Homo sapiens: one gene and its partners. The protein of the gene in region 1 interacts with the protein of each later gene in a pairwise test. Each region holds a gene or a part of one and is shown on either strand. Other genes may lie near its edges.

The links.
Region 2: the proteins of ITGA6 (region 1) and CD151 interact in binary tests that used the Homo sapiens proteins (3 or more experiments, as listed by UniProt).
Region 3: the proteins of ITGA6 (region 1) and ITGB4 interact in binary tests that used the Homo sapiens proteins (3 or more experiments, as listed by UniProt).

The regions. Positions count from the first base shown.
Region 1 is NC_000002.12:172,430,000-172,438,326, forward strand, and holds part of ITGA6 (integrin alpha-6 isoform b preproprotein), read left to right. Parts: intron 1-8,327. UniProt on the Homo sapiens protein: Integrin alpha-6/beta-1 (ITGA6:ITGB1) is a receptor for laminin on platelets. Integrin alpha-6/beta-1 (ITGA6:ITGB1) is present in oocytes and is involved in sperm-egg fusion.
Region 2 is NC_000011.10:835,952-839,489, reverse strand, and holds the end of CD151 (CD151 antigen), read right to left. Parts: intron 3,428-3,538; 5' UTR 3,421-3,427; coding exon 3,337-3,420; intron 3,240-3,336; coding exon 3,048-3,239; intron 2,722-3,047; coding exon 2,647-2,721; intron 2,241-2,646; coding exon 2,136-2,240; intron 2,031-2,135; coding exon 1,872-2,030; intron 1,549-1,871; coding exon 1,462-1,548; intron 1,358-1,461; coding exon 1,298-1,357; 3' UTR 659-1,297; downstream 1-658. UniProt on the Homo sapiens protein: Structural component of specialized membrane microdomains known as tetraspanin-enriched microdomains (TERMs), which act as platforms for receptor clustering and signaling.
Region 3 is NC_000017.11:75,717,122-75,724,616, reverse strand, and holds the start of ITGB4 (integrin beta-4 isoform 1 precursor), read right to left. Parts: upstream 3,159-7,495; 5' UTR 3,005-3,158; intron 2,339-3,004; exon of another isoform or gene 2,190-2,338; coding exon of another isoform or gene 2,095-2,189; intron 1-2,094. UniProt on the Homo sapiens protein: Integrin alpha-6/beta-4 is a receptor for laminin. Plays a critical structural role in the hemidesmosome of epithelial cells. Is required for the regulation of keratinocyte polarity and motility.

The DNA of each region.
Region 1 (8,327 bases):
AAACTTCTGGACCAGCTTCCTAAACTCTATGGAAAAACTCAGTGGGGGTCTTTCAGGGACCTGGTGGGAGAGAGACCTAAGCTGAGATTCCTTCTCGGCCTTTTATTAGCAGCTGTTAATTTACTTTGAGCTTTAATTTCTTTATCTGTAAAATGGAGATATTACTGCTTACTGGGGTTATTATGAGGATTAAGAGATAATATGCAAAGTGCTTAATGCCTGTCTGGCATGGGTACTTGCTGACTAAATGGTAGCTGTTAATGATCATTTAAAAAGCAGTAATTGTGTACCTACTGTGTGTCAGGTACCTTACAAGGTGTCTTAAACATTCTGTGATTCTAAGATTGCCTGAGAGTAAAGCCAAAGGTGGTTGTTTTTGGGTAATGATATTTTAAACTCAGTCATATTTATGAAACCCATGTTCAAAGCAACTTAACTTTAATAGGTCTTAATTAGACTTATAACAAAAGTGAGTTTAATGAACAGAGGACTTTGAGGAAGGAGAAGTAAAATATCAGATGCATGGGACGGTCAGATAAAAGCACGATCATAGAAGACCTATCATAAATGTTTGTAGTTCAAATTTTCTATAGTGCCTTTAACTATTCAGTCACATTTTAAACTCCAGTTATGACTTTTGCAGAATAATATTGTGTCAGAGAGCCCCAAAACATGTCGGGTGTTCCTAAAGCTTTGGAGACTATAAAATTGAAGTAGATACCATAAACTTCATCCAGGTTTTCAGGCTGTATATTAAAGAAGTTTCGGACTCCAAAAGATTACTCAATGGTCAGCCAAGTTGGTCCGCCGAGTGACTGAGGTCAGGGTCTGAGCACCTTGGACTCTTTAATTTCTCTTAGGTAGTTAAGATTGAGTCATTCCCAGAGGTGGAAGGTATGTGATGATGACTGTGGGTATATCCAGCCTATGAATCATCACTCTTAGCTCTTCTGGGAAGAGATGGATCTATATATGATCACAGGGAAGAACCTAGAAGAAGGAGATCTATAAGAGATAGTCTCATGAAGTCATTTTGGATTTCTGCCAACCCTCATTTTCTTCTTTATGGGGTCTCTCTCTCTGACCACCACTGTCTTCCAGAAATGCTCCAGGCCCGCGGTCTGTTCTGTTCTGACCCTTACTAGGTTTGTTCTTGACTTTTCTCAGACTTGTCATGTTCCATCTCTTAAAATCATATTTTCTGAACTAGAGATCATCTAGTCCAACTGCCTCTTTTTACAGATGAAGAAACTGAAGCTGAAAGTTCAGCTTGAGCAGAATCTTAACAGAATGTGGATTTGAATCTCTGACCCATGCTCATGCCATTTTTAAATGGAAAAGCCAGAAATGTTCTTCAGACCTAGAGAAATCGGCAAGCATCTGAATTTTGGAAGTGTACTATATTGTGTTGATTTATCAAACTGCTTCCCATATGCATAGGTCAGGGCTATCTATTTAAATATTGGTGCCTGGACTCTTACTATTGACTCTATTCCAGCTGGCCTTGGAACAAGTTCTGGGTCCGTCCTTCTTTGCCTGCCTCCACCCCATTCCCTTCTGAAAAAGCCCAGTGAAGTGTGGCTGTAGCTAGCCAAGAATCAGAGCTGTATTCAGGATGTGTACCTAAGCACTTGCTTCCTTGCATTTATTCACTCGGAGTGCCATGTGGCCCAGGGCCATCTTCCAGGGATTGCTGGGTCACCTTGAATGCTAAGAGTAGAGAAAAAGCCAAAACGGGCAGCGAGACTTACAGGAAGTCTTAGGACTCTGCAAGAAAGCAGAAATAGGCAAGTTTAATTTTAACACAGGCTGGTGTGAGACCAAGTAATGACAGGGTTGGGGAAAAAAAGGGTCAAAGTATTTATATGGTATAAATAATTTGTTGGGGAAGTCAGGATAAATGCTTATATAAAAGGATTCCTTTATTATAAAGAAGTGGTTATTCTGTGTTCTCAGTTATATAGACTCTCTTAGCATAACAATATATTGAGATTTAATTTAAGCTTTCATAACCAAATAGTACCAGAATTATGGCGCATGGTTTCCTGAAGACCTCGGCTCAACATATTACTGTGGACAGTGAGGCCAGTGAATTATTTGGTATTTTCAAGAGGGACAGTGAGACAAAACAGAAAATACTGTTGTAAGCTTAGATGACAGGGTCAATTGTGCCTGAAACACTGATTTAGTGCTGAATCAGCCCATTTTAAGAATATAATCATAGCTTAAGAACCAGTTTAAAATTTCCCCATCCTACACTAAAGCAATGTCTTTAACTCCTTTGGATGTCTGTAGCACATTGTGTCTGACAATTCTGATGTTTTGTGCTAAACTGTGATCCACTATCTTTAGGACATGATCTAATCTCTCCCAACTGGATTGTAGGTTATGTGAGGGCAGGGGTCTTACATTCATTTCTTTGCCTGCTAGCACCTAGCATATGCCTTGCAAATACAATAGAGACTGATATTATACACTCAGTTTAACCTGTGACATCAACTCTTCCTGCTGAGGGTGGAGAGAGGGAGAAATCCCTTTCTTTAACCCTTTGCCCTTCCTTGCTCAGGCCTTGGTGTCTTCTGCCTCTGAGGAAACGGAATCTGTAAGCTTAGCAAAGAAACGCACAAGACGTTAATTCTTGGTTTTTGATTTTTCAAAGGCGGGGGGTTCCAGCTAAGGGATTTTCATGAGTGTTTGTAAATTTCACCTGGCTTTTGCCCTAAAGGCAGACTTTAGAACCTAACCCCAGAAATACAGGCTGACCTACACTGCAGTGGGTACTCGGGACTTGCTGAGGTGGTTGGTTGTTATGAGGCTGGACAGAGAAGGATGACTGTGGAATAGAGATCTTTCTGAAAGCAACTTGACAGGGGTGTGGGGGTCAAATGGAAGTGTGCAGTACACGTGTGAAGTCACTTGTGAATTGATAGCGGCAGGTTTATTTCTTCAAGGATAGTAAGGGAATCTTGGATATATTTAACTCTTTCGGTAGGATGGTGGGAAGGCTGCTTACCTGCTCCGGGGGTGAGCCTAGGAGCCATAGCATGGGATCTGGGGATCTGTGTAGCACCCCCGCTGGCTCCTGGGAGGATGGTAAAGATTACGTACTGCAGCAGTGGGAAGTGGACGTAGTCTCAGCCCCCGGTGCCCATCTTCCCTTTCTGGGCTTGGGTACAACTCTGGAATCAAATAACTTTATATCTGGAAGGAAGCTTAGGGGTTCTGAAACCTGGCTGGTCTTCAGGGTAACTACTTGGGCAACCTTTTATAAAAGTGTGATTCTCAGCCCAGCCTAGATCTGTTACGTCAGTTTCCATAAGTGTGCTCCAAGAAGCTGTTCTTAAAGTCTTCTTCGTTTGAGTCAGACTAGCTTTTCTCCTTTACACAGAAGGCAGAGTGTAATGTAGTGACTAAGAGCAGAGCCTAGAGCCAGGTAGGATCAAACCCTTTTCTGCCATTGACTAGCTATGATTTTGTGCAGGATTCCTAACCTTCCTAGGCCTTCCTGCCTTCAGCTGTGAAGCTAGTATCCTCGCACATTAGAATAGTCCTGGTCCAGAGTGAGCATTTTGTGTTTGTTAAATAGATGAGGAAACCAAGGCTGTAAGAGGTGCAGTGGTGGCGGCATGTCTAGCAAACTTGGTCTTCAATCTGCATCTTCCCTGCTTCCCGGCCTGTGCTGTGTATGTGCTTTCTCCTTTTAGGTTTGGTTTTCATCACGTTTAAAGGTTTGGTTTTCATCACATTCTCCCTTTCTTCCATTCCACTCTCCAGTTGAAAAGTGCATCTCAGAAGAGCCATGCCTTCTACTTAGCAGCCCTTCGTAGCTACTAAGCCATAGATAAATCCCAGTGAGGTCTCAGTGTTCAGAGATGAGTGGACAGATGGGTGCATAGACATGACGGGGCAGTGACTGTGAGCTGGATACCCATGGAGGGTGGGTGGTGCAGTTATAGGTTGGGCTTACTGCTAAGGAATACCACCTGTCTGGTTTCCAGGCCTTCTTAGACCTCTATGACCTTGAAAGCACCCCCACACCTCCATCCCTAGGAGGCTGGATAACTTGCACAACACCCAGGGCAGGTTTGAAAACGATTTATTTTTCTTAGTTTTTTGCTTGGCACTAATGTTTGCTAGGAAGGAGCTTGTGGATTATTGATGACAAAACTGCCTAAGGTTGGAAAGTATGTGGGCAAATATGGAAGTAGTGTTTCCTTCACAGGTTTGTTAAACTGGCATTTAGATTTGCAAACACTGATCTCTTGGAATTAAGTTAAAAGGCTAATTGTTAATTAGCCCTGAACTGGGGCAGGTAGATGGGCCTCTCACCAGTGCAGGTCCCTGTCAACTAATAACAGGGTTTGATAACCACCATCAAATCTGCTATCTGGCTTTTCTGCTTAGATAAACAAGGCAAGACGATCTCAAACCAGCATACCGATTCCGAGGTTGGCATGTTTGTAGAAGACTGTTCTCAGGCCGCAGTGTGGCAGCAGACCCTCCCCAGTTCAGCCCCATGCCAGATTCCAACGTTGGATCCCACTGTCGCTTCATCTCATCCTAAATTGGCAGAAAGACTGTTTAGAAAACTAAGTCTCTAAAACCAATTAAATGGTAAAGAAGACTGTTCTGAATTAGGGGGAATGGGATGAAGTACCACTAAACGCAAGTCACAAAGGGCAAAAACTCATGACATGGAGCCGTGGGTATCTGCTTGCATGTTTATTTGCCAAGCGGCTAGTATATTTTGCATGTCATACAATCTGAAACTTACTTTTTTGAAAAGCCATTTCAGATATAGTATAAGAAAAGCCTTTGAGAGAAACATGCTTTCTAAGCCTGGGAGTACAGAAATAAAAATAAACTTTGCAATAATTTGAAAGGGGCACACTGGTTAGTTGAAGAGTAAGGAAGCACCCAGTAATGCCTCTTTACCCAAGAGCTCTGTTTGCTTTGCTCGGTGATATCAATGTCACTGTGGTTTCTTCATTTTGAAAAGGAAGTTCATTTGTACTGAGGTGGTTTTAAGTGTGTGTGTGTGTGTGTGTGTGTGTGTGTGTATGATGCAAATGATAATAAACATTTCAGACCCAGAGGGCAGAATGTCACTGAACCTAAGCCCTCCTGAGCCAAATAACTCCTTTGTCCTTGCAGAATCAGGAGCCCTTCTCTTCAGGATATGCTGCCATTATGATAAAGCATTGTGATGTAAAGTTAACGAGAGGATCCTTATCCAAGTGAATCACAGCCAAGGGGTGGAATGGTTGGCCTCTGGTAGGGATGCCCCATTCAGCAGCACTGAGAGTTTGGAGTTGTTCTGTTCTCTTTCCTTCTTGCTGAGGGTAGTAAGAAATCCTCCCTAGGCCCCATTCCCCTGATATATCTTGCGGGTGATGGCCTCTTACTGGCAGTGTGATTATGTATGTCCCTTTAGAACAAAGGTATCGAAACAATAAAAGTTGTGAAATGGAAATGTTTACAATTCTACAAGGCTCCAGAGAGATTAGAGATAGGTAGGAAAAAGGCCATTGTTTTCCAATCAAAGGTGCTGAGAACCTGTTGATTGGACCTAAGGAATCCAGCTTTGCCACGACACAAAACCCAAGAGTTTTGTTTCTTTTTTTTTTTTTTTTTTTTTTTTGTTGAGACAGAGTCTCACTCTGTTTGCCCAAGCTGGAGTGTAGCGATGCGATTTCAGCTCACTGCAGCCTTGACCTCCTTGGGCTTAGGCAATCCTCCCACCTCTGCCTCCCCAGTAGCTGGGACTGCAAGTGTGCAGCACCACACCCAGCAATTTTTTTGTGTTTTTAGTAGAGTCAGAATGCTACCATGTTGGCCAGGCTGGTCTCGAACTCCTGGATTCAGGCAATCAGCCTGGCTTGGCCTCCCAAAGTGTTGAGATTACAAGCGTGAGCCACCATGCCCAGCCCCAAGAGTTTTCAAAAAAGGAAGAGTTCAAAGAGGCTCAGAAATGATCAAGTGGACATACAGAGACATAATTTTAGGAAAGGGATATTATTAATATTTGCCAGTGAGTCCTCGTTACTGCTGGTGAGACTAGGCCCAGGTACCGACTTAAGGCGATACTTTGAAAAAGTTGAGAGGTGGCTTAAAGACCTGGGTGATGAATGAAGAAGACCTCCATGACTTTACAAGTGCAAAGAGAGATGGGTCTGGGCACTGCTGGGCCTTTTAGAGGCTCAAGGACAGTGGCCTTGGGGAAGGCTGAAGGAGACACCTATTGAATTAGATGGTGCCAAGGCTGAGGGAGGACTTTCGGGAATCCCAGACTAGAGAAGTGTTTTAATGCCAAGAACATGGGAAACCCATTTCAGATACTGTATCAGATAAGCCAGCTTAGAAAAGCACCTTCTAAGGCTTGCCCTATATTTAGAAAGGGCTGCTACAGAGGTTAACTGAGAAGGGGTTGTAGGAATGTGGAGAGGCGTTGTGAGGATCCTCATTCAGGATGATCTGGGAGGTAAGCTCTGAGAGACAATGATACCTCTCCCCAAGCTTAGCAGCCATGCCAGAAGCCAGCTGAGAAGGTTTTTCAATATCATAGAATATGTAAGCTCTGTAAGCTCATTTATTTCTCTCTGTGTGTGTACATGTTTTAACCCAAAAGAAATAGGGATTTTTGTCTGTATTCGAACATGCAGGGAATGTGGTCTGGACCTGCCAGAGAAACCGTGGCCAGCTTTTTGGGGTTTTCCTATAGAAATTGTTCATTCAACAGATATTCACTGAGTATTTACTATGTATTTGGCACTGTTCTAGTGCTGGGGCTACAGCAGCAAACAAAATAGACAAAATCCCTGCCTATGTTCTGATCGGGGAGACAAACCATAAACAAAAAGGTGTATTATGTTAGATAGTAATAATTAATGCAGAAGTGTTAATGCAAGAGAGGGGAGAATGGTTGATGTGATCTGCAAAAATATAAAGTAGAGAGGGAACAGGGAGTGCAGATGGGGAGGGAAGTGGTCAGCAGTAGGGCTGCCTGGGAAGACTTTGCTGAGAAGGTGAAGCTGCATTCCTGGCAGAGAGAATGGCAAACACAAAGGCCCTGAGGCAGAAGCATGTTCAGGCAAAGCAGTGAGTCTCCTTGGAGGCAGATTGTATAGGGCCTTATGGATCATCGAATGACTGGCTTTTACTCATGAATGAGATGGGGAGCATTTGTAGGTTCTGAGAAGAGTAGGACATGTCCTCACTTGGATTTTAAATGGATTTCTCTGGCCTGCAGCCTTGAGAGTAGACTGTATGAGGACAAAGATAGAAGTAATGATACTGACTAGGAGGCTCCTGTAATAAACAGATAAGAGATGGTGATTTGGACCAATGTGGCAGCAATGAATATAGTAAAAAGTGCTTGGATTCAGGATATGTCTTGAAAGTAGAGTCAACAGGATTTCCTGGGGACTAGGTATCAGTTGGGACAGACAGAGTAGAGAAGAATGTGTCCAAAGTTTTTGACCTGAGCAGCTGGAAGGATGGAGTTGTATTATGGTTTGGGGAGAGATGTGAGAGTAATAGATTTTGGGGGCAGGGCAGGAGTATGGTTTTAGATATGTCAGGTTTGGAGTGTCTAGACAGCCAAGTGAGTTATTTAGGCAGTTGAGTAAGCAGCTGAGTCAATTAAAAAAATTGAATTTAAAAGCCTGAAGTTCAGTTGGAAAGGTTTGATTGGTGATGCAAGTAGAGGAGCCTCTAGGTTGTGTTTAGAATGATGAACTGATGAGGGCACCAAGGACGGGGATGGAGGCCTGAGCCCTATGGTGTTCTTACACATGGAGGTTAGGGAGAGCCCTGGAGACTGACACCCATGGCAGGAGGAGAGGGAGGGAGTGTGTGGTCCTGGAAACCACATGATGGGGTTTCAAAGAGGAAGTGAAAGATCAGTTATATCAAATGACACTTACTGAGATTTGATCGCTAGATTGGCAATGTAGAAGCCACTGGTGACCTTGTGAGAGCACTGATGGGGAGGAGTGGGAGCAATGCCTAATTGGAGTGGGTTTGTGAGAGAACAGGAGAGAAGGAATTGGAGACCATAGGAACTCTTGAGGGGTTTTGCTGTAGAGGGGAGCAGAGCCATGGCAACAACTGTAAGGGGAAATAGTGGGTTTTTGTTTCGTTTTGTTTAAGATGGGAGAAGATTATAGTGAGCTGGTTTGATGAAGATGATTCAGTCAAAAAGGAAAAGTTAATGCAAGAGAGGGGAGAACTGTTGGTGTGACCTCACCAACTGAGTAGGTGAGAGGACGTACCGTGGGGGAGGTGGCCTGATGACTGGAGCAAGGGTAGCTCATCACAGTTATGAG
Region 2 (3,538 bases), on another chromosome or scaffold:
GCCCTAAGGAGGCCCTGCTGTCCAGGCAGTGCTGCCAGCAAGCACCCCAGGTCAGATGTCCCTGCTGCCCAGATATCTGGCGTGGTGTCCTCTGGTAGGGGAGAACGGGTCTGCCTGAGGGTCTACAGTTCTGAGCCTTAAGGACAGGAACCTGGGCAGTGGGGGGCACAATCAGTGACCGAGCCCTGGCTCCCATCTCCAGGGTACCTCTGCCAGACACCAGGCTCTGGTACCTCCTACCCTCTGGCCCCCAGCAGGGCCTATAGGCTCCTCCATGTAAACCCCCTCACCCTACTGCCCCCACCCCACCTGCCTGACACCTCTTACCTGGGCACGGCCCCCAGTCTGCACCCTTCCCACGTCTGCTCCCCACCATGGCCAGAAGGGTTTTGGAAACCATTTTTCCTCTCCCCCAGGGGCTCTGAACACACCATCTCACCATTTAGGAACATGTTCAGTTCTTTCTGCTGAGGCCTGTGCTCAGCTGTCCCTGGCATCAGACCTCCCTTCCCTGGAGCCCCATGGGGGGTGTGTCCTCCTGGCTCTGCCCTTCTTTGTCCTGACACTGGGCGGGGCGGGGGTGGGTCTGTCTGCCCTGCTGGATGCGAGGGCCCTGAGAACAGACCACCATCTGTTACCAGCACAGCGAGCTCGTCCATCTGCTCTACAAGTGTTTATTGAGCACCTGTATGTGGCAGGGATGGTTGTAGGCATCTGGGTACAGCAGTGAACAAAACCAGGAAGGCCCTGCCCCGCAGAGGCACATGAACAGGGCAGTGCACAGTGACCACGTGGCATTTCGGGTGGTGGTGACTGCGGTGGGGAAGACAGCAGGGGCGCTGTCGAGGGAGACGAGGGCTGGGTTGGGAGGGGCAGAGGCCCAGGCCCAAGGGTCAGAGCTCACCTGGCTTCCCCAACTGGGATGGGGCCATGTGGCTGCAAGGCAAGGCCCCAGTTCCTGAAGGGCCTGGGGTGTGAAGGGTTTCTCCCCCTGCTGGGAACGCTCGGCCTTGCGCCACTCAGCAAGGCCCCTTCCAACCTGCATCTGACCACCAGGCAGAGAGTGTGTCTGGGGAGCCCCACAAAACACCCCCCAAACTTCGCCCCGCCAGCCCCCCTCACCTCCCCTGCTGGGCATTGGTGCGCAGCAAAAGGCACTTGAAGCTGCCTCTGAGGTTGGGGTCCCCAGAGGTTATGGTGATGGCACAGGGTGGGTGTCATCAGGGAGCCCAGCCCCTGGTACTCAGTGGTCTCAGCTCAGTAGTTGGGTGCAGCAGCAGCAAGGCCCAAGGCAGGGTCAGTAGTGCTCCAGCTTGAGACTCCTGTACAGGCAGCACGTGAAGATCATGCCAAAGACCTGTGTGCAGAGCCGGGTGGGCGTAAGCAGACGTCATGGGGCCACCAGCCACCGCCCTGCCCCGTGTCCCCAACAAGATGACCGCCACCCCCATGTGCCCTCACCTGCACACAGGCAATGCCGATCCCCACAGCCCCAATGACCCTCAGGTGCTCCTGGATGAAGGTCTCCAACTTGGTGATGCAGCCGCCCTGCGGGGCGCGGATGGGTGTTGAAGGCGGGCCCAGGGGGCACCTCCCACTGGCCCCTACTGCCTCCAGCCTCCAGGGTGTGGCCAAACCCACCCCTAGCACCTAGGCAGCCAGGCCACCAACAGCTCAGCCAGCCACTGGGCTGCCCACCCACTTCCTCGTAGATATTGGAGGTGTGGTCTCACTGCCCACATCCGGCCACTGGGGTGACCCCCCACCTCCTGGTAGATATTGGAGGCGTGTCCCACTGCCCACAGCCAGTCACTGGGGTGCCCCCCCACCACCTCGTAGACACTGGAGGCATGATCCCGCTGCACACCCACCTCCACCTTGTAGATGTTGGAGGCATGGTCTCGCTGCCCACAAAGAGCCACCACCGTCTTGCAGCAGCTGTCTGGGACCACACGGCCACCGGCCTCCTGTGAGCGGATCCACTCACTGTCTCGCCAGTCCTGTGAGTTGTTGCTGCCACAGCAGTGGAACTGCATCAAGAACAAGGCTGGGGTTGAGACCTGGGGCCAGAGGCTCCTGCAGAGGTCCAGGGAGGCCCTGGGGATGCACGCGCCCTCCCAGCACCACCCACCCACCTCCTGCTGCAGCTGGTCCACAGCGCTGGTCACAGCCTCATGGCCCGGCTGGTGGTAGCGCTTGGTCATGGTGTCCTTCAGGTTCTCCTTGAGCTCCGTGTTCAGCTGGGGTTGGGGTGCAGGAAACTTCAGCCTCAGTCTAAGACCTTCCAAGGTGGGGCTGGCAGAGCCCCAGGATGGCCGGTGGGGAGGCCCGGGGCCCAGCTCAGAGCCACAGGGAAGGGCTGAGGTCACACCTCGGCATGAGGGGAGGTTGGGTGGTGCCAGGACCGTCACCAGGGTGACAATGAAGTGCGGCAGAGGCAGAGAGAGCTTCTGGATCCCCTGGACACCTGCCTGACCCCATGTGCCCCTGCAGAGACCTAGACCCCATCTCCAGGGCCCAGTGGCACATTGGTTAGCTCTGGGACCATGGGGGTGGGGGTTGGGGCTAGCCACGCGTGTGCATGTGTGTGTGTCCGCCCCGCCTGTGCATGTCTGTGTCTCTGAATGGCCTGCCCAGGCCCCTCACCTGCTGGTAGTAGGCGTAGGCGAGGATACCAGCGATGATCTCCAGCAGAAAGATGATGAGGAGCAGGATGAAGTACTGGGGGGGGCAGCACAAGGGCACCCTTGTTCTGAGGCCTAGTGCCTAGACCTAGTGCACCTCAGAGCAGAGTCCCCACCCCGGCTCCCCAGGCTCCAGGTGGGGGCTGAGGGGCGGCCACCCTCCCTGAAGCTTTCTTGCGGAGCTGGTGTCTTCCCTCAGCTGGTCCAGCAGGAACGTGGGGACCCACAGGACTAGGCAGGTGTGGAAGGACCGTGACCCCCCCCCCAGGTGAGCACAGCAAGGCACAGGTTCAAAGCCTGCAGCGACAACCTCCTTGGGCCCATCTGCACCACCCCCACCCCGTGGCCCTGCGCCCTCCTGACCAGGCGCAGCAGGTTCCGACGCTCCTTGAAGGTGGCGCAGCAGCCCAAGACCCCAGTCACCATGACGACAGTGCCCGCCACCACCAGGATGTAGGCTGTGGCCAGGTAGGTGCCTGAGGCCAGCAGGCTGATGTAGTCACTCTTGAGGGCCAGCGTCCAGATGCCCACTGCCATGACAGCCAGGCCAGCCAGCTACAAGCAGTACACAAAGGTCATCGCATCTGCCCAGGTCTGATGGTGGCCCGGGAGGGGTGGGGGTGGGGGTGGGGGCAAGGCGACCCCTCCTCACCCAGAAGCAGCAATTGTAGGTAAACAGCAGGTACTTGAGGCAAACGGTGCCACATGTTGTCTTCTTCTCGTTGAACTCACCCATCCTGGGGCTGAGGAGGCAGGGGAGGGGTCAGCGGGGCCACAGCACCGGGCCCCTGACTGGGAGACGGATAGGAGGGGACACAGGGCCAGGCGCGGTGGCTCACGCCTGTAATCCCAGC
Region 3 (7,495 bases), on another chromosome or scaffold:
TGTGGGAACTGAGGCTCTGAGCACCAACAATGTGACCAAGGGCGCCCAGCCGCCAGAGGCAGGGCCCTGGGCCTCGGACTCCTGCCTTTTCCGCTGCCCTGTTCCGTGCCATCCCTGCAGTGGCCTATGCCCTGCCCCGGGAGGCCCCCTCCAGCCCTCAAGGACTCTGGTTTGCGAGTTTGTCCCAGTGCCAGGCCTCTCAGCACTGGGCTCCCTGAGGGCAGATGTGGGTTTATTCTTCTTTGCCTTTTAGCTCCCAGTGAGCCTGGGTCAGGCTTGGCCATGACAGGGTCATCCAATGAGGGTGCCTCCCTGAGAGGGGGCCGCAGCTCTGCCTCCTGCTCCTTCTGTCCTGGCCCACTTACCCTTTGGTGAGGGTGGCACAGCCGGGAGGAGAGGGGCCCCTCCCAATATCTGGGGCCTGGGGCTGGGCCACAGCTGCCCGCAGTGGCTTACTGCACCGGGTTGGGTTCTGCAGTGACTGCCCGGCCCATCAGGGTGGGGTCTGAATCATCTGCCCTCCCCTGTACCTCTGCCTGCCCCAGAGTTAAGTTTTCTGGGCCCCTGAGCTGTTCACCCTTTCACAAGTTAGCCCAGAGTGAGACATGCACACACACTGTGGCTCCCCTCAAGGCGTCCCCAGCGGCTGTGGGTTCAGTATTAAACCATCCTAAGTCCTCAGCGGCCTTCAGGGCAGGACTGGACATCCCTGAGGCCCTCTAAGAGATGCTCAGCCTGAAGCCTGGACAAGAAAAGAGGCTGGCGGCAGAGCCATCCAGGCCTGCAAGGCCGGGGCAAAGGTGAGCACCGCGCCTCTTTCTCTAGGGCCAGGTCTCCCAGGGGCCCAAGCCTCTGCCCTGCCCACGGGCCCTCCCCATTGAATCCTGTCTCAGCCCGGCTTCTGGGGCAGTGGCCACCCCAGGGTCTGGGGGCTGGGGTCCCCGAGGTGCTGGAGAAGCCCTTCTCAGGCCAAGGGCAGGAAGGCGTAGCCTGCTTCTAAGGCGTGCAGCCTGGAGGAGGCCACAGCAGCGCCAACACATGCAGGTCAGACCTGTTGTGGCACAGGGACTGGGAGGCAGCCCTGAGCCAGCAGGGAAAGGGTGGGGACAGCAGGGTTCCTAGAGGGAAATGACTTCCTTGCAGCCTCGGGGTGTAGCCGCCACACCCACATGCTACACAATACAGGCTGCAGGCTCAGGCCTCCCAGGCATCATTACACAGGCAGGTACAGGCCTGGAGAGCTGAGCCCAGCTCTTCCTCCCACTGTCCCTGGCCACAGCCCCTCAGGCAGTGCTGATTCCCACACTGTGACTGCCATATGAGCCCAGGGCTTCACGGAGGAGATTGCTCAGCACAGGAGCCCGGCGGGAGATGATTTCATTCTGCCCGTTTCCCAGATGAGAGACCAGGCACAGAAGGCTGTGGAACTTCCCCATCCCGCGGACAGCACTGGGAGGGCCAGGACAGGGCCCTGCTCTGCAGGCCCTGCCTTTAACCTCCATGGCAGCCTCCACGCAGAAGCTACAAAATGGCAGTTAGAGGGTTGGCGAGGCACCCAAGAGTGTTTGGCTTCATTTGTTTAGAAAGTTTTAAAAGTAGGAGCCAATGTTAGAAACAACGAGATTTCCCATAAAAGTTAGGAATTTGTGTTTATCATTAGATGTATCACGATGGGCTGGGCCCAGCGCTCAGGACACCTACTCTCCAGGCGGCCCGGACCCCACCAGGCTGCCCCGACTTTATGTACCAGCAGGTCCCTGGAGTGTGTGACTGCCACCCTGAATGCCATCACACTGCAGCACAGGCAGTTTCCCCCCCACAGGGACACACACACACACACACACACACACACACACACAGGCCATGCCCACCCACCCACAGGCTCAGAGCTCCCCTGGCCCCCATCCCAACCCCTGGGGACCCCTCTGGGCACACCTGCTCCTGTCCACTATCCTCTCCCGCTGTCACATCTCCTCCCCTCAGGGACCCAGGCCCTTCCTCGCCCCAGAGAGGCAGCTGGCCAGAAGTCTGGGGACCCCAGGCCCTTGGCTGTTCTGTCTCCCTGAGAAATCAGGGTCGAGTAGACAGACATACCTCCCCTCCTGTCCCTCCTGCTGTCCTTCCCTCAGCCCCCAGGATGGAGACTCCAAGCCTTCACTGCCAGCTCTGTTTCGGACAGCAACAACCATGCCACCTGTGCCTGGTCCTTGTCCTCAGGGTGTGGCAAGGCCATGGGGGCAGAGGAGAAGCCCTGTCCCTGCTCCTGGGAGTCACCAGGAGCCCCAGAGCCCCAGTCCCAGCCAGAGGGCCACCCCAGAGGCTGAGCCATGGGAAAGAGGGCGGATGCTGCAGGAGGTGGCAGTGTTGGGCACAGCCCTGGGGCTGGTGGGTGAGGCCTGTAGAGCTTCCTGAAGGAAGGCGCCTGGGGCTGACTTTGGGAGGAAGGCAGGCCTGTGCTTGGCCAAGAGAAAAGGAAAATCAGGGACTCCCCAGCCCCAGATGGACTGTGGCACCGCATAGAGCAAGCCCTGCCTGGAGCCGGGATGGCGTCTGCCTCTCAGGGTGGCTTTTAAAAGTAGGAGCCAATGTTAGAAAGAACGAAATTTCACATAAAAGTCAGGAATGTTGGTTTATCATTAGATGCGCCATGATGGGCTGGGCCCAGCACTCAGGCTGGTGTCTACTCCACCTTCTTTGCAAACCCTGGAGGGGCCCAGCCCCAGAGGGCTACCAGCCACTGGCCTCTGCCCACTTCTCCCGCAGGCGCACCCAAGGCGCTCCTCTGGCCTGGAGGTCTGATGGGCACCACCCTTCTCTAGCTGCCCTGCCCCTTGGCTGCCAGCTGCCCCCGGCGCACCCCGGGGAGGCTGGGCACCTGTCCTGCGCAGCGTGGACAGAGGGACCGGGGCCTGTCAGCCTTCAGGGAGGGGAAGGGGAGACAAAAGCCACCGGCCCTGCCCGACCAGCTCCCCTGCGCGGCTGCCCAGCTGGGGCGGGCACTCACCCTCTCCCGGCCAGCCTCGGCTGCTGCTGTGCGCCCGTCCTGGACCTACCTCGGGGCGGACTCGCTCCCTCCGCGCCTGGGCTGCCGCTAGGAGATGGGGCTGCAGCGCGCGGGCGAGCAGGGACTGTCCGAGGGCGGGCGCGGGGGTTGGGGGGGTGGGGACGAGGCGGGCAGCGCTTTATGGGGCGGGCGCGCAGGTAGGAAGGAGGCGCTGGTGAGTCAGACCGGCTGCATTCCTTCGCGCGGCGCGCACCTGTCGGGGCAGGAGCTGGGTGCCGCCGCCGGAGCCGGGTCCGCCCCCCGGAAAGGGCTGCGGCTCCCGCGGCGCCCGCCCAGCGCCCCGATCGGCTAGCGGCGGGGGCCGGGGGAGGAGCCACCGCTCTCCCTCTCCCTCCGGTCCGGCCCTGGGCGCGGGGCCTCCCCACCCCTCCAGGCTCCGGGCTCCAGGCTCGGGTGCGCGGACTGCCCCGGGCTGGAGGCGGCCTCTTAGCCCCCGTCCGCACGGGAACCCTCCCTGCCCCGACTCTGGGCCGCTAGCCAACGCCGGGCTGTGCTGCTGCTGCTGCCCCGACGGTCGTCAGCCGCGTACCCCCCTCCCCGCTCTCCGTGCCAGCGCGAGGCATGGGCCCAGGGAGTGCCCCCGGCCCGGTCGGGAGGCCTGACTCCCCGTCCCAGCTCTGCTCTGCAGTTCACGGGGTCCTCTCAGCCTCCAACCCCTAACCTCACGTTGTATCCAGAGGGAGAGCCGAGGAAGGGTCGGGTCCTCGGTGCACCCTTCAACAAGCTACTTAAATCTCCTTACAGTGTGAACAGTGATACCCTGGAGAGGTCAGTGCCGACCTGGCATGGATTGGCACTCGATGCCTTGTTACAGTTGTTCTTAACAAGCTGGTTACAGAGCTGGCCCCTCCCTCCCGTCAGTCCTCTGAGAGCAGTCTCTCCATTGCCACTGCTTACCACGGGTGTTCAGGTCAGAGAAGGGCTTCATTTTTCTTTTTCTTTTTGTTTTCTCTCTCTTTTTTTTTTTAGATGGAGTCTCACTCTGTCGCCGAGGCTGGAGTGCAGTGGTGCAATCTTGGCTCACTGCAACCTCTGCCTCCCGGGTTCAAGCGCTTCTCCTGCCTGTTTCCCGAGTAGCTGGGATTACAGGTGCCCGCCACCACGCCCGGCTAATTTTTGTATTTTTAGTACATCATGTTGGCCAGGCTGGTCTCGAACTCCTGACCTCAGGTGATCCACCCGTCTTGGCCTTCCAAAGTGCTGGGATTATAGGCGTGAACCACCATGCCCAGCCAGGGCTCCATTTTTCTCTAGGCTTACTGGCCAGCAATGCCAAACAACACCAGACTGCTGGCACAGCACTGTCCAAACCATGCGGTTTCAAGCCACCGTGCTTTTTCAACAGGCTGGTCCCTTCCCATGACATTGAGCCCAGTTTATCCTTCTTGTCCTTGAAGACGTTGCACCAACCACGTGCTAGAGAGCCTTCCTTGACCTCTCCACACCCCAAGTTGGTTTATGTGTCCCCATAACCCTTGGGCCATGGCTTTTACATGGCATTTGCCACATTGGTTTGAAATGATGTTTAGGAATCTCGCCACACTGTTGGACTGTGACTCCAAGGGCAGCTACTCTCTAGCACCTAGCACCATGCCTGGTGCATAGCAGGTGCTCAATAAAAGGGTGGTTGAGTGAATGGGATGGTCACACAGCCTCCCTGAGCCTCCATGCTGTCATCTGTAAACAGATTCCTCCACTGCTACCTCTCAGAGTGATTGCAGGGGTGCTGGTTGCAAATGTGTGAGTCGCCACCTTTCCTGGTCATCTGAGAGCTGTTCTGCACAGAGAAAGTGTTCAGAGAGGCTTGCTCCTGGATTTGGGAACAATGTGGAAGGAGTCCCAGTTTGGTTGAAGCACTCAGATCTGTGTGTGTCAGGCCAGCACAAGTGCCCTGTGGACCTGAGTCACTCCAGCAGGTACCTATCCACCCCAAAAAACAGAAACATGGAGCAGGAGCTCAGAGAACGGCCAAAAACAGCTTGCCTGAGGGGCCTGGGTCTGCCAGCAGCACCCATTAGAGAACTAGGGGGTCATATACACCCCACTGTGGGTGGGGGCTGAGGCTTCTTCCTAGAGAAGACCCAGGTCCAGAGCTGGCGATGCCCCAGGCCACTGGGCTCAGCAGCCCCTTCCTCTCTTCATTGCAAACCCTTCTGAAAATGACTAGGGGGCCTGGAGCCCTGTAGCAGCTGAGAGGCGAGATGTCAACCCAGGGAGGTCTCACTAAGTAAGATAAGCCATGAGCTTCCTTGGCTTCTCGGAGTCCTGGGGTTCATTACCTGGAGCCCGCATGTGGACTTGGCAGTGGGGAGTCCCTGAACCATCTCAGATCTTGTGCAAACTTTGAGGAGTATCTGATTTCAGAATGTGGGTTTGCTGGGAGGGGAGCCTTAGCTTACACTGGATTCCCAAATAGGTTACTGGCCCCAGAAGTTTAAATATTGCATGTGATTTTTTTTGTTGTTGTCATTGAGATGGAGTCTTACTCTATTGCCCAGGCTAGAGTGCAGTGGTGCGATCCTGGCTCACTGCAACCCCTGCCTCCTGGGTTCAAGCGATTCTCCTGCCTCAGCCTCCCGAGTAGCTGGGATCACAGGTGCACACCACCACGCCTAGCTAATTTTGTATTATTAGCAGAGTTGGGGTTTCACCATGTTGGCCACGCTGGTTTCAAATTCTTGATGTCAAGTGATCCACCCACCTCAGCCTCCCAAAGTGCTGGGATTACAGGCGTGAGCCACTGCTCCCAGCCTGCATGTGAATTTTATAAAACTAAAATAAACCCCACTATCTCTGCAGCCTTAGGGCCAGAGTGAGGTTGGCTCATAGGGGGCTTCCTAGGCTCTGCAAGAGAGGTGAGGCCCCTGGAACAGGACCGAGCCCAAGGACCTTGGATTGTTGCTCCTCCACTCCCCTGCACTCCTCATGTGGCCTCCAGTAGGTCAGACTTGTTCATTCATTAGTTCAATTATTTATTCATTTTATGAGCAGTTAATGAGCTCCTATGCCAAATGCTGGGGATACCAAGATGAACGAGAACTACGGCCTGCTTCCTTCACTCCCAGTTCAAACCAGGGGTCTCCAAAGTAGGCTGAGTATTCTCGAGGTAGGTGCTAGCTGAGACCCTATTCTTTTTTTTTTTTTTTCTTTTGAGATGGAGTCTCACTCTGTCGTCCAGGCTGGAGTGCAGTGGTGCAATCTCGGCTCACTGCAACTCTGCCTCCTGGGTTCAAGCGATTCTCCTGCCTCAGCCTCCTGAGTAGCTGGGATTACAGGCACGCACCACCATGCCCAGCTAATTTTTGTATTTTTAGTAGACATGGGGTTTCACCATGTTGACCAGGCTGGTCTTGAACTCCTGACTTCAGGTGATCCGTCTGCCTTGTCCTCCCAAAGTGTTGGGATTACAGGCGTGAGTCATTGCGCCCAGCCCTGAGCCCCTATTCTTATACTTGAGAATGTACATTACTTATTGGTAGATTGGCACCTGTTTTATAAAAGAACAAGTTAAAGAATAAATAGACAGGGGATGTGTGGTGGAAAGAGTCCAGTGACCTGTCTGGAGAGCCCGCATCAACCACATGTTCAGACTGGGGGCAGAGGCCTCTCCGGTGCAGAATCCTGGGGTTTGTTTTCTCCTCAGAGCCAAGGGGTTGCTCAATAGGCCCCCTCTTTTTTGAGACAGGGTCTTACTCTGCTGCCTAGGCTGGAGGGCAGTGCCACGATCGAGGCTCCCTGCAGCCTCAACCTCCTGGGCTCCAGTGATCCTCCCACCTCAGCTTCCTGAGTAGCTGAGACTACAGGTGTGTGCCACAAATCCTGGATAAGTTTTTAATTTTTATTTTGTAGAGACAGAGTTTCACCATGTTGCTCAGGTTGGTCTTGAACTCCTGGGCTCAAGCAATCCTCCCGTTTCAGCCTCCCAAAGTGCAAGGATTGCAGGCGTGAGCCACCATGCCCCAAAAAGTTGAAAGAATACAAAAATCACCCGTATTTTTACCAACTAGACTCAAGAATAATATTTTGCTGTATTTATTTATATATTTGTTAAACATTTGTATATTTTTAAATTTGAAGTTGCACTTATCCTGCCATTTCATCCTAAACACTCCAGCATGTATCTCTCAAGAACAGTCCCCCACGTAACCTCAATACCCCCCTTTATTTTTTTGAGACAGAATTTTGCTCTTGTTGCCCAGGCTGGAGTACAATGGTGCAATCTCGGCTCACTGCAGCCTCTGTCTTCTGGGTTCAAGCAATTCTACCTCAGCCTCCCGAGTAGCTGGGACTACAGGTGCATGCCACCACGCCCAGCTAAATTTTTGTATTTTTTGTAGAGACGGGGTTTCGCCGTGTTGGCCAGGCTGGTCTTGAACTCCTGACCTCAGGTGATCTGCCCGCCTTGGCCTCCCAAAATGCTGGGATTACAGG